Homo sapiens: one gene and its partner. The protein of the gene in region 1 purifies or fractionates together with the protein of each later gene. This does not show direct contact. Each region holds a gene or a part of one and is shown in the gene's direction. Other genes may lie near its edges.

What was found. The genes of interacting proteins can lie anywhere in the genome.
Region 2: the proteins of CSNK2A1 (region 1) and NKAPD1 purify together in Homo sapiens (affinity purification with mass spectrometry; 5 studies listed by BioGRID and IntAct, with this or other methods). This does not show direct contact.

Annotation. Positions count from the first base shown.
Region 1 is NC_000020.11:533,777-540,800, reverse strand, and holds part of CSNK2A1 (casein kinase II subunit alpha), read left to right. Parts: intron 1-7,024. UniProt on the Homo sapiens protein: Catalytic subunit of a constitutively active serine/threonine-protein kinase complex that phosphorylates a large number of substrates containing acidic residues C-terminal to the phosphorylated serine or threonine.
Region 2 is NC_000011.10:112,069,625-112,077,298, forward strand, and holds the start of NKAPD1 (uncharacterized protein NKAPD1), read left to right. Parts: upstream 1-4,674; 5' UTR 4,675-5,292; intron 5,293-5,942; 5' UTR 5,943-5,950; coding exon 5,951-6,019; exon of another isoform or gene 6,020-6,060; intron 6,061-7,674. Other genes in the region: PIH1D2 (PIH1 domain-containing protein 2), read right to left, coding at 812-1,077, 1,414-1,659, 2,011-2,134, 3,374-3,550.

The DNA of each region.
Region 1 (7,024 bases):
AGCTACTACATTTGTGGTAATTTGTTATGGCAGCAGTAGAACACTAGTATAGATTTTGGTACCAGGAGTGGGGTACTATTACCTAAAAATGAAAGTGGCAGTAGATAAAGGTTAGAATTGTTTTGAGGGGCATGATAGAAAAGGCCTGGAACACAGGAGGATCGCTTGAGCCCAGGAAGTCAAGGCTGCAGTGAGCGGTAATGGCACCACTGCACTCCAGCCTGGGTGGCAGAGTGAGACCCTGTCAAAAAAGAAAAGGCCTAGGACATACTTTTAGTAGCAATATGGATGTTAATGACTCTGCTAGTGAGGGCCCAGACAGAAGTGAGGTCTTTCTTATTGGAAACTGGCAGAAAGGGGATCCTTGTTACATAGTAGCAACTAAGTTTAGCAGAATTGTATCCTATGGTTATATGGAAAGCCAAATTTGCAAGTGATGAACTTGTATATTTAGCTGAGATTTCCAAGCAAAGTATTAAATGTGCAGCCTGGTTTATTTGTGAATGTGAACTTTAATGGAGTGGACCCATGTGGAATACTTCCACAGCCCATTAGGTTCTTGAGAATTTTATGCCAACATAAACAGTTCTAGTTTGGATTGAAAGAGACAGAAAGTAATAGGGCTGTTGGACCCCCCAAATTCTACTGATAGGAAGCAGGCTGATAAAACTACTCACATGTGAATGTGTTGCTTTTCATAAAAGAATCAGGGTGACTCAGACGGAGATAGGAGAGCCCAGAGGGGTGGAGCTAAAAGCTGGAGAGGATTTTTCCCAGGCTTTGAAATGGAATGGAGATTCCCTAGATTTTGAAACTGCTTTGGACCGGAGGCTCTGTTTTCTTTTACATTTTGCCCATTTGAACTGGAATGTCTAACTGTTATTCTCTACATGTCTCACAGTGGTATGTTGGGAGTAGAGAACTTGTTTCTTTAGGAATTGTGCCCCAGGAATTGGACTTACTGTTTTGTCCCCAGAACCTCATCCACACCTGAATAGATGAATGAGATTTGGGACTTCTGAAATGATAAGCTTTAGATGGGAAACCTTTGGGACCTTGGGATGGGATGGATGTATTTTGCATTTGAGAGAGAGATGAATCCTTGGAAACCAGAAGGCAGACTGCGGTAAGCAGAATGGCTCCCCTACGATTTCCATACTATAAACCCTGGAACATGAATATGTTAAGTAGATTTAATTAAAGTTAAGGATCTTAGGTAGATTATCTTGGATTTTCTGGGTGGGTTTATTCTACTCACATAAGCACTTAAAAGCAGAGAACTTTTTCTGGCTGGTGTCAGAGATGAGGCAGAAGGGGAAGTCAAATTTGAAGCATGAGAAGGACTCAGCCTGCCGTTACTGGAGGGGACCAGATTGAAAGTGTGAGACGGGGAATGCAGGCAGCCTCTAGTAGGAAAGGCCAGTCCCAGCTGACAACCAGCAAGGAAGTGGGAACTCAGTCCTACAGCTGCAAGGAACTAAATTCAGCCAATAGCTTGAATGAATGTGGAAGCAAATTTTCCCCAGAGTTTCCAGCAGGGAACCCACCCACTGGATACCCTCATTTAGCCCTTGTGAGACCCAGTCAAGCCCACTGACTTCTGTAAGATAATCCATTTGTGTTGTTTTGTTTGTGATAATTTGTTATGACACAATGGAAAACAAATACAGGGGTTTTGCTGGTTTTATTTTAGAGTCTTTGGGATATCATTTTCTAGAGAACAAAGATAGCAAAGATTCTATAAAACAATTTAGTCCTGGAAGACTCCACGGAATAATGGTGTTGAGTGGAACCTGTGCCTGTTTCTTGATGTTTGAATATTATTATTGTCCTTAGATGCAGTTTGAAGGGGCTTGATGGTCAGCTTAGTGAGATGTAGTTTCTGAAGGTCTAGGACATTGGTAGGATTTCTGTAAATAGGTGGTTCTTCCATATCTTGGATAAATGACATAATTTCTTCATTAGTTTTTATTGGCTTAATAATGGGTTTCTATGACAGCCTTTTAAGGCTTATTTCATATTTTTTTAGAGGAGATGGAAATGGGTGATACATTTTTGTGAATTTGTAACTGTCTCTCTGTTCTCTCACACCTCCCACCCCACCCCAGCTCAGCTCAAACTTGTAAGATCTTTTCTCCCTGTCATTGTCTGTTGAGGTTGTTGAGTTTAAGAGTCAGATCTGGGAATCATCACTACAGAATGGAGTTTCTAGCTTTTAAGAAAAGTCTTTTCTTTTTGTTCTTTAAAGTATCCTATTAATTGGATTCATAAAATATGGACTAACTAAACTTTAGTCAGAGGATGAAGGAAGTGAGACCATTTCTTTTGAGTTATTACCTGAATAGAAAGATGATTACAAGATTAGCATTTCAGGGTATGAAAGACTTTAGAGGTTATGTTTGACTTTGGGTTTAGAGTAAGGGAAATTGGGCCACATGAATGTTAACTGGTCTACTAAGATATCTCAGCCCTAGAGCTAGTCTAGAATCCTGGTCCAGCCAATAGAGAATCATGACTTTTGAACTATGTTCCCTGAGTACCCTTTTCTACTGTTGGCCGGGCATGGTGGCTCACACCTGTAATCCCAGTTCTTTGAGAGGCCGAGGTGGGCAGATGACTTGAGGTCAGGACAAGACCAGCCTGGCCAACATGGTAAAACCCCATCTCTACTAAAATTAGCTGAGTGTGGAGGTGCGTGCCTGTGGTCCCAGCTACTCAGGAGGCTGAGAATCACTTGAACCTGGGAGACGGAGGTTGGTTGCAGTGAGTCAAGATCACGCCACTGCACTCCAGCCTGGGGGACAGAGCAAGACTCCGTCTCAAAAAAAAAAAAAAAAGATGTTAACTGTCTATAATATTCAACTATATGACAACTTTTGCATAAATATTACAGTATGATTTGTACAAGTTCAGAAACTGAAAACCAATATGATTTGCCATTGAATTAGGTAAGGGCTTAGTATTTTAAGGTAATAAATAATGTGATACTTGATTTGAAATGAGAAACTGGGTTTTGATCTGTCACAATTCGTGGGTAACCTGGATAAGGTTTGTTTCATGAGAGTATTAATGTGTTCTTATACCTGAATTTCTTTGAACTTCTGAAATGGATAATTTCGAAAGTAGCATGTCATTTAGTTTATAGAGAAATCTAGGCCAGCCAGCTTTTCAAATGAAGAAATTCCTCTAGGATTATTAAGGAAAAGTAGCTGCTGTCATTGTAACAAAGGATGTATTTTCATTGGGTTATAGACAATTGGTAGTTTTCTTACGTTGAGTGCTCCCAGATGTACTTTTTTTTTTTCACATGTAGAAGTCAAAGATTGAGTCTTTTAAAAAGTTTAAGGTGAAAGCATTCACAGTATCACAAGATACTGCTAAGAGTGGCATTTTAACTGGTTTCTACAAATTCTGTCTTTCAGTCTTAGACATTAAAAAACCCTACGTAGCAACAGTTGCTATGGTCGGCAAGCTTCTTTACATTCGTGGTGATAATGTTTTCTTGCATAGAAAATATTGTGTTATCTGAGGTGACAGTTTTAGGGTTAAATACCAAGGTACAAGTTAGATTAATGTTTTATAATTTTTTATGTGTGACATCTTAAATGCCCTTATATTGGCTGCTCTTTTCTTTTTATACTTTCTTGTCTTGTGGGTTTTTCTGACAGGTTTTTATTAGCTGAAACATTTTAATTTGCTTGGAAAAGTGAACATTTGAAATTTTCCTGAAGTTATGACTAATGCTTTAATGGGCATTTCTCAGTTTAGCTATCTCATCAATGTTCTATAAATTTTAAGAAAGCTACCCTGTTTAAAATGAATGGGTAAATTATTTTCCAAAAAATGGTATCATGTCATATCCAGAAATACGAGATGGTCATTTTGGGTTATTGAATTCATAACCACTCAGAAGATGTTGTTCATTCAGCAGATCCTGAGCGCCTGCCACGTTTCTGGCAGGCGTTGTGCTAAAGATCTCCAAACTGTCACTGCCCTCCAAGCTCAAAATTGAGTGACGTTTTCTGATAACAGGCATATCATACCACAACTTAGTAGATTTTGGAGGTGTTTTCTTATAATAACTCCTATTTGCTTTGTATCTTAGGTGTAGTTTTTGAAACAGCTGCAGAAATGAGAAGGGGGTAGAATAGAGAATTAATTGAGATTGCGGGTAGGGAGGGGAAGGCAATAGGTTAGTGGGAAAGAACTCCCACTTTGAGTTTGGGGAAGTTTACTTAACCTCTTCAAGTCTGGGAGTTCTTGTCTCTACAGTTCGGATAACAACTACCTTGGGCAACTTACTAACTTTTGGTTTCTTCACCTGTAACATGGGAATTAGTAGTACCTACCTCAGGATTTTTGTGAGGATTAATAACTAGAGTACTAGCTAGTATTATCTCAGGATTATTGAGGATTAAAGGAGAAAATTGATAAAATGTCTGGCATGTGGGTGCCCAACATTAGTTCTTTCCCTTCCCTTTCGGAGAAAAGAATGTGTTTATTGCCAGTGCTGTCATTCTTCATTCTTTATTTTCATTTTCTGCTGCCAAGAGTTCTTATTTTTTTAATGAGACTTTTGACCTGTACTTCCTTGTTTCTAATGTAGCCTGTTGGGTGGGTGAGGTATGAATTGCTGCCTAGGGGTGGATCAGTATGTAAGTCACGCCCAGTGTAGATTACCTCAATTACTCGTGTACAGTGTCTATTACCTAGTCCTGGTGAGTCTAGGATTCTTTTGCTTCTAGATAGAGAAGGTAATATTCCCATCTCAGACTCAGGAAAAGGTCTACCTTTGCTCACCTATAGACTTGTAAATATAGATCAGAGGTCTTACTCCCAGTGGTTCTCTGATCACAGTTTGGGAATTGCTTGAATATTGTGTGTTAGGGATATGTTTGGAGAAGGCCAGCTCCCTGCATTAACATCTTCTCTATGTCTTGCTCTCTCAGGTAATCCACTAACTTGCTTTCTTGTTTGCTTTGTATTATTAAGTGATAAACTGTAGGCAGACCAGGAACTTGTATTTATCGGCACTTTAAAACTTTTTTTTTTTTTTTTTTTGAGATGGAGTCTTGCTCTGTCGCCCAAGCTGGAGTGCAGTGGCGCAATCTCTGCCTCCTGGGTTCAAGTGATTCTCCTCTCTCAGCCTCCTAAGTAACTGGGATTACAGGTGCATGCCACCCCACCGGGCTAATTTTTGTATTTTTAGTAGAGGCGGGGTGTCGCCATGTTGGCCACGCTGGCCTCAAACTCCTGACCTCAGGTGATCCACCCGCCTCAGCCTCCCAAAGTGCTGGGGTTACAGGCGTGAGCCACCGCGCCCGGCCAGTGTTTTGTGTATTTATGATTATATAGAATGGCTACAAATGGCCATCTGCTTTGGAGTTGTCTACCTTTTGTGAAAAAATGAAAATAGACTATTGCCTAGCAATTAAGTATTCAAGCATGTATTTTGCCACATAATTTATTGTGAGAAGGTTATCAATGTCAAATAAAATGCTTTCATTATTTGCTTCTATTTGTCTGTCTTCCTGACCAGTTCATTTTTCCTTCCAGTGAAGCCATCTTGAGCTAGGGTTTTCTTTGTGGGTAGTTGTTAATTTTTTTTGTAGAGACAAGGTCTCACCATGTTGCCCAGGCTGGTCTCAAACTCCTGGGCTCAAGCAGTCCTCTTAACTCAGCCTCCCAAAGTGCTGAGATTACACTCATGAGCCACCACACTGGTCCGAAGAAATTTTTTTTTTTTTTTTTTTTTTTTTTTTTTTTGGGAGATAGCATCTCACTCTGTTGCCAGGCTGGAGTGCAGTGGCACGACCTTGGCTCACTGCAACCTCCACCTCCCGGGTTCAAGCAATTCTCCTGCCTCAGCCTCCCAAGTAGCTGGGACTACAGGCGCACGCTGCCACGCCTGGCTTTTTTTTTTTTTTGTATTTTAGTAGAGATGGGGTTTCACTGTGTTTCCCAGGCTGGTCTCTAACACCTGAGCTCAGGCAATCCACCCATCTCGGCCTCCCAAAGTGCTGGGATTGCAGGTGTGAGCCACTGCACCCAGCCTGGTCTGAAGAATTTTTAAACACCACAGCTAAGGACCTGAGCATTCATCTGCAGCTACCTATATGCTCTTGTTACATACAGTTGTTATACTAGGGGGTTTTTCACAGCCATCTTTTATGACTGTTTTTGGAAAACATCACATTGACCTTCATACATATTCAAAACTTTAGGCTTTGTTGCATCTGGAGTCCAACACTGAGGCCCACAGATGTCACCAGCCCCCAGCCAGCAAGGTGGGGCATGTCTCAGTTGTCTTCCTTTCTCCCTTCAGTAGCCACACAGAAAAGCTTTTCCATCATTTAAAATCTGATTTTTATACAATTGTGGCCTGGTGGCCAGCCCATTCAGGTAAAAGAATAATGAAGAAACCTGATTATTGAAACTCAGTATCCCACCCCTACCTTGCCTCCAAATTTAAAGCAGTTCATTTTATTATAGTGTTTTGGATAGGCTGTTAATAAATCAGTTTGGAGAACTAAGGAAATAGTATTAAATTTAGTGAAAAGAACCTATTTAGGCTTTGGATCCTAAACAGATCTGGCTTCCACCACTTAGTAATCCTGTTGTTTTTGGCAGATTATTTAACCTCTGAATCTGTTTATTTCTAAAATCAGAATATGCATCTGATACTGTGCCTGGTTTGTAAGAGGCATTCAAATGGTAACAGTAGTTATTACATTCATAAGTGCTGAATTTTTCTTTAGATTACTGTATATCCCAAATGAAGTTTTCCATCTTTTGGTTCCAGAGGGTAATAGCCAGTGGAGTAAAGTTTCACATTGTGACTTTATTTTGCTTATATGGCGTGGTAAAAAGGTGTATAGATGATGACTATATTGTAAGAGACAGTACTGGAATTCCGATTTCTCTTAGGTGTTTGGGGTAGAACTATTAATCCAAATCAAACTGCTTGGATTTTCTTCTAATACCTCCCTTCATTGGGAGACCTCACACTGTTGCTATGTCATTT
Region 2 (7,674 bases), on another chromosome or scaffold:
AAAACATCTTCCTGAAGACTGAAGCTAAAGGTCGTGGAAAAAAATGGAACTGGGGAGCTAGGTAATTACAGAACTTTCTCAAGGAACCTAAGTAAGAACATCCTCTACCTCCAGAAAAGGAGCCCTCACAATGTCTGCCTACTAGGATTTCAGAATTGCTGTGCACCAGTAACTGCAGTGTGCCTCTTATTTTTCCCATTTCTGAATTGAGATGGTTAATTACGGTTATCTTCTCCCCATTCCACATTGCATGACAGATGGGACTGAGGGAGTACATAACTTTTTTTACATGTCTTAGTCCATGGTTCAAGAGGAAGAGAAAGCAAAATTCTGTCCTTTGGAGTCTGATACTGGGATTGGAGGTGTTTTCCTTCCAGAAAGAAGCAAATATTTGCAACCAAGAGTGTAGACTGGTAGACTGTAGGACTGACTCTAACTATTTGCTCTTCTGTAAGAGGATAGTACGTTTACCCTGCCATATGACTTCCTGTGACTGTGAGAATACACTTCTCAGTCCTACTGATGTAGAACTGGCCTTGTGACTTACTTTGGCCAGTGGAGCGTGAGTAGAAGTGATATCATGAAGTGTCATGTCTGAGTAGAAGTATTACGATCCACTGCATGGTTTGATCATTCTATTTTCCCTTTGCTGAGATGTGAATGGCACATCTCAGAAGGGAATTGCTCCTTCACCGGGTAACCTGAGCAAATCATTGTAAGCCCCTGAAATTATGTAGTTTGTTACTGTGGCATAATATATGTTAGTGAATGCTGGCCAATACAAATTTACAGTGTTATCTATTCAACTTACCTCAGAAACACTAAGGTCACAGAGAGAGACAGAATTAATACCAGGTAATTCAACTTTCAACTCAATTTTCAGAGGTTTCTCACTGTGATCATGCACAATTTTTAGTTCATAGGCTGGCATCTTCATCTCCACCTGGATTTCAGTACTGGAAATCTCTTCTATCAGACACACTGCTTTGCCTGAAACTTGGTCTTTTGGCAGTAACAGTTGAGGAAAGTGATCTGGATTGCTCATAGTACTGCTTCGTATCTGTCCAAGAGTTAGTTCTTTATGAAAAAAAGGGTGGAGGGGAGATAAAAAATAAATCTACAACATAAAATACTATGAGCTATAATATATGTGGTGTTAGTAGAGATGGTAGATAAAGCTGCAGTTAAATTAGTTTGGGAATCAAGCCAAAAGAATCTTAAACCAAAGAATTTGATTGAAAATTTTTCAGGATTTAAAAATCAAGGATATGATATTTCTAATATTTAATATTTGCATTTTTCTATCTTAAGTTTTTCACCTTTTAAAATAGAGATTTCTAGTTTGCAAAATGTATACAGGATCCAAAAACATCTTAAAGCAGTTTAATTTTCCATTTACAATCATCAACTTACCCCTTCTCATTTTTTCTCTTAAATCTATGGAATCAGTTTGGATTCCCATCAGATTTTGTTTCATTCTTTGAATGCTTCCTTTTATTCTAAATTTGGTAATATGGTAAGAGTGTGAGAGGGTGAACTGGAATTTCTCCTCAATGCATTTCATGGCCATCTGAATTAACTGATTTTTTTTCACTTGGTCCTTTTCTGCTGCATGAAGAACATCAGGATTGTAGGCAACATCAATGACTGTGTAAGCATCTGTGTGTGTAATTGAAAGGGTATGAAATGAAGAAAAATTGTTGCACTAATGATACTGTCAGGCAATATATTAAACCATATTCCTGATAAAGCTAGAGAATATTCCTGTATTTTTCAGAGGTAATCACAGTAGTGCTACAGCAATTATGACATTTCTTGGCACTTTTGCATGGATTAAAACAGCTCACCTTATTACAAAAGTTAAACAGTATTAAATTTGCATAAAGATACACTAATTGTAATTATATTATCAACAAATAAAGAGTTTTACTTGAAATGCTCTCAACCAAGTAAGATCTTGTCCATTCCTAATAAAATTTTTACAATGTGCTTTCTCTCAATTATTTGTACCTGATATCTCAGTTGTATCTTCTGGTTTGCCAACAGTTAGAGGTACTGGATGAGTGGTTGATTGGGGAGCTGGGATCCTTGTCCACTGACACAGGTTGATAAAAAGTATTTTTTCTTTTGGTTTCTGGAAAGCAAATAATTTTGCACATCTCAAAACCTAGTTTAAAACCATTTAAGGCCAGGCATGGTGGCTCCCGCCTGTAATCCGAGCACTTTGGGGGTCCAAGGCGGCCGGATCACCTGAGGTCAGGAATTTGAGACCAGCCTGGCCAACATGGTGAAACTCCGTTTCTACTAAAAATACAAAAATTAGCCAGGTGTGGTGGTGGATACCTGTAATCCCAGCTACTCGGGAGGCTGAGGCAGGAGAATCGCTTGAACCCAGGAGGCGGAGGTTGCAGTGAGCCAAGATTGTGCCATTGCACTCCTGCCCGGGTGACGAGAGTGAAACTCCATCTCAAAAAAAACAAAAACAAAAACATTTAAAAAATAATATCCTAAAAGCCACTCACCACAGGAATGAAAGAATTTTAGGCTCCAAGTAAGTCATTTCATGTATTAAAACTGCGTTTGATTATACTGTTGTTATTTGATTTCCCCAAGGCTGCTGGCTTTTAATTAGGAATCCAGACTGGGGTGGTGGCTCACGTATGTTACCCTAGTACTTTGAGAGGCTGAGGTAGGAGGGTTGCTTGAGGCCTAGGAGTTCGAGATTAGCCTGTGAAACATAGGGAGACCCTGTCTCTACAAAAATCATTTAAAAATTAGCCGGGTGTGGTGATGCCCACCTGTGATCCCAGCTACTTGGGAGGCTGAGGTGGGAGGATCGCTTGGGCTGCAATGAGCTGTGATTGTGAGCTGTGATTGTGCCACTGCACTCCAGCTTGAGCGACAGAGCCAGCAAGACCCTATCTCAAAAAAAAAAAAAAAAAAAAAAAAAAAAAGTCTGCCAGGCGCAGTGGCTCATGCCTGTAATCCCAGCACTTTGGGAGGCTGAGTCAGGTGGATCACCTGAAGTCAGGAGTTCAAGACCAGCCTGGCCAACATGGTGAAACCCCGCCTCTACTAATAATACAAAAATTAGCCGGGCATGGTAGTACACACCTGTAATCCCAGCTACTTGGGAGGCTGAGGCAGGAGAATCGCTTAAACCCGGGAGGCAGAGGTTGCAGCGAGCCAAGACCACACCATTGCACTCCAGCCTGGTGACAAAGTAAGACTCTGTCTCAAAAAACAAAACAAAACAAAACAAAACAAAAAAAAAACAAAAAAAATTAGCAATACCTAAGTGTAAAGTATTCTCTGGTTATTCTGGGATCATTTCATTCAAGACCTCCCCATCCCTGGCACCAACTCGACATACCAGAATCCTGGTCTGTAGACAAAGCTGTGGTTCTGGGGCAGCACAGAGCTGTTTCCCTTCTTTCAGCTGCTGCTGAATAAACTTCTCATAGCCCTCAGGGTCACTCTGAGCTAGATCATCTAGGAGGTTCCAAAACTGAGTAACTTGGGTAAGCAGACCTTTTGAGGATGTCTCCATGACTTATGAGTGGTGAATAATTTTCTTAAGCCTGTGGAAAAACACGACTTCAGGAAGAAAACTGTCTGTGTAATTATTGATTCATTTCTGCTTTGGGGAGGTGGAATGGGTCAGGAATTGTTTTGGTGAAGTTAGGACAGCATTTGTGTCTAAAAGGTTGTGGATCAGCACCACTTTATGTTTTCCTTATTCTTTAATTATCTAGTACCTCTTCCTAAATTCTCACATTGTCCTCTCAGATAAGGCCTTACTTCTATTTGGACCCTGACAAGTCAGAGTAATCATTTTAAGTCTGGGTTTCCTGATCTTCTTGTTCCAACACCTGACTGGTGGCTCCCCAGTTCTGAAATTGCCAGAGGTGTGGTGTGGGGTGAGGGCCACATAAGACTTCCTTAATCCTCAGTATAGTTTAGTATTTCAAAGCATGGACTTGTGAGCCAGAATGCCTAGATTCCGGTCTTAGTTCTATCTCTCACTAGCTCTGTGACCTTGAGCAATTAATGTTCTGTTCAAAATGAAGACGATAATACCTCTACCATAGGATTATTGCGAGATTAAGTAAGCTAATAGAGAGGCTGGGACACTTCTCTACGTCTTCAGATAAATCTCCTTAGCCTCTTCTCCCATTGGAGAGGTGTCCCACAGCATCTTTAGAATGAGGAAAAGAGGTTTAGATTCTTCAATTACTGTGTAAGGGTTATGCTAAACGGGAAACTTAACTAACGGATAATCATTCCATAGGTCTGCAAACCCACCTCTTCTCTCAGTTCTAACGGGTAATCATTCTATAGGTTGGCAAACCCACCTCTTCTCTCAGTTCCTTGACAAACCGCGACGCCTGTTACCAGGGTAACCAGCCTGGGTACAACATCTAATTGGGTCCGGGGAACTTCAGGGAGAAAAGTCTCTTCATATCTAGTTCCGGAATGTCCCCCTTCTGGTGCCAGGCTTGCTTTTCAGTTGGGCCTGACCCACTTCTCTTCCAGGAAAGCGCCCGCCTTCCTTCTGCACCCGTCAACCTCTGGAGTGTCCTGAAAACCCTCCCTTGTGGGAGTCTCTGGGCTGCCTGTTGGTGGGACGATTTCTCAGGAGCACGACTTCCGGCCTGAAAAGGAAGTCTCCTCCTTTTTCTCCCAAACCACTTCTTCCCCCCTACCCCCCGCCACGCGAGGCTGCGGCGCACGGTATGGGTGTGTTTGTGTGTATTTGTGTGGGGAGGGCGTTTGGAGGGAAGGTTACCGGGAGCTCCGAGGCCGCTGGGGAACAGGGATCCCGGTGACAAAGATGGGGATATTTCCTCTGTCTTCCACTTGGAAACCTCAACCCCCGCTTCAGGCTCCCTAGATACTTTCTGGGGCCCAACCGAAGGCCGTAGCCATCCAAAGCGTTCCCAGCCTTTCTGGGGAGTGAAACTTACCCCCGGGGTTCGTCCTAGAGGAGCGTGAGCGGGGAATGCCCAGGTCAACCGGGCTGTCCGAATTCCGCCCCGGCTCAGCCTCCGGCCTCAGTCCGGGAGAGAGATCTGCCTGTCGGTCTGGGCTGGGGGAAACGCGGCAGTGGCCTGGGCCACAGGTGAGGGCAGAGTAACCAGTGGGAAGGCTGCGTTTTCACGAAGGACTCGGGTGAAGCTGCAGAGCTGCCTTTGAGCCCTGACTCCTTGGCTTCCTGGGTCGGAGGAGATCTTGTAATGGAGTGGTTCTTCGTCTCACTAGCAAGATGCCTGATTTCCTCAGGATCAAGGGGTGAGTGAGCGTTGGGGTGGTTGCACAAAGCTCCTGCTAGCTACACACGAAAATATTCTTGTCATCTAGTTTTTGGAAGCTTCCGTAGCAAGTAGGAAATAAAATGCCCCCAAATGGAGAAATTTAGGACATCTTTGCATTTGATGTTTTGAGTAATCAGTTTCTGTTACTGTTGACACCCGTGGTTCCTGACACTCTCAAATCTACGTATTTGCTTCAGTGCAAACTATATTGGGATTGGAGGTTTGATTTTTAATTTAGACAGTGACATACATCATTTGCCTGGGACTATGTGGCTTGGGACGTTACAGCTTTAAGGGAACTTCATCTACAAAATAGGGATGGAGATACTTGCCTCATATAAAAAGTAGTTATGAGGATTAAATAAAATGGTGCTCATGAAAGCACTTAATTTTATGTAGTCTTGTGCATTTTCAAAGAACTTTAATGTACATTATCTCCTTTCATCTCACATTAGTGTGTTTAGGCATTTCCCTCTTTTAATGGTAAAGGGAAAACTATTCTTTAGAATCTCTGACTTCTAGTTCAGTGATCTTTCCTGTACCTCATATGCTTCTTTATAAAACTTCAAGAAAAGATAAAGTAATAACAGAAATTATTACTAAACGTTATTTGTTGATTCATTTCAGATTGAAGAATGTCCCGGATTCCACTGGGGAAGGTCCTCCTGAGGAATGTCATCCGGCACACAGATGCTCACAATAAGGTGGGAGGTACAACCTAGTTACTCCTCAACGCTTACTGAAGGCAAGCAGTGTGCCAAGCATTATTTTGGAACAACTGGGAGATACAAAGAATATTCTTGTCATCTAGTTTTTGGAAGCTTCCGTACACAGTAGGAAATAAAATGATGAATAAAATAGATAATTATAATACAGTTTGATAAGTACTGTATAACAGAGATATTTGCAAAGTGCTTTGGAGCACTAAGGAGGAAATAATAAAATCTACACTGGGGAATTAGAAAAGATTTTACAGAATTAGTGGTATTTCAGCTGCTGATCTTTGAACTGGTTCTTGAATAGGTATACGTTTACCAGGTATGAAATATCATTCTGGATAGACAGCATCATGCATTAATATGGCAACGAGAAAGAGCATTAATCACTTGGGGCATGGCAAGAAATTTATCCAGAAAGCAGGGAAGGTAGGGGATAGTGGCAGAAGATAAGGCCTCAGTGGTAATTAGAGTTGGATTGTGATGTTTGGAGCTGAGACTTCTTCCTCTAGGCAATAAAGAAGCCATCAAATGTTTTTAAACAGGGTGTGGCATGATCATAGTTATATTTTAGAAAGATGGTTTGTCAGCTGGGTAGGGAATGAATCAGATGGGGAGATACAGAAGGGAGAGTAATTAGGAGGCAATTGCAGTATTACAGGTGAGAGATGATGAGGGTTCGCATGAAATTAGTGACAGCAGGGATGAAGAAGAGGAATTTAGGAGATAGAATCCAAAGAAGTTGGTGGCTAATTAGATTATAATGATAAGAATGGAATCTAATTCAGTTGACCCTTGAACAATGCAGGGGCTAGGGGCATCAACCCCCTGCATAGTCGAAAATCCATGTATAACTTTTTACTCCCTCAAAATGTAAGTGCCAATAGCCTACTACTGACTGAAAGCCATAGCGATACCATAAACAGTGGATTAACACATATTTTTTATGTTACATGTATTATATACTGTATTCTTATAGTAAAGTAGCTAGAGAAAACAACATTTCATTAAGAAAATCACATTGAGTAGGCTGAGGAGGAAGAAGAGGGACTTGTTTTGCTATCTTACAGGTGGCAGAGGTGGAAGAAAATCTGAGGATAAGTGGACCTGCACAGTTGAGATTCCTGTTGTTCAAGGTCAACTGTGTAACCACCTATGTGACTGGGTAGATGATGACAATTCTGTTAATTGAGATAAAGAACAAAAAATGGGACAATTATGATAGGAAAGGTAATTAGTTTGGTTTTCAACATGTTGATGGTGAGGTGCTTATAGGATGTCCAAGCAGTTGAAAATTCAGACTTGGAGTAGAGGAGAAAAGTTGGGGCTGGACATAAAGGTTTCGGGATTATTGATGTATAGGTTGATGATAAGAGGTCATGAGAGTAGATGAGGTCACCTAGGAGAGCACATATAATGAAAAGAGGGCCAAGGCCCCTGGTTTAGTTTTCTTCAGTAAACTGTACTACTTTTGGTTTGATCATATTATTATTATCATATCACCTGATTTTTAAAATTATGGGCGAGGGTAAAACTGTTACCCGAGCTGCCTATGCAATTATGTTAACCTGCCCCTAGTTATATAGTAAGCTTAGATTTAAAATGGTAGCTAGAAAAAGATAAATCTAGCACAGATCTAATGA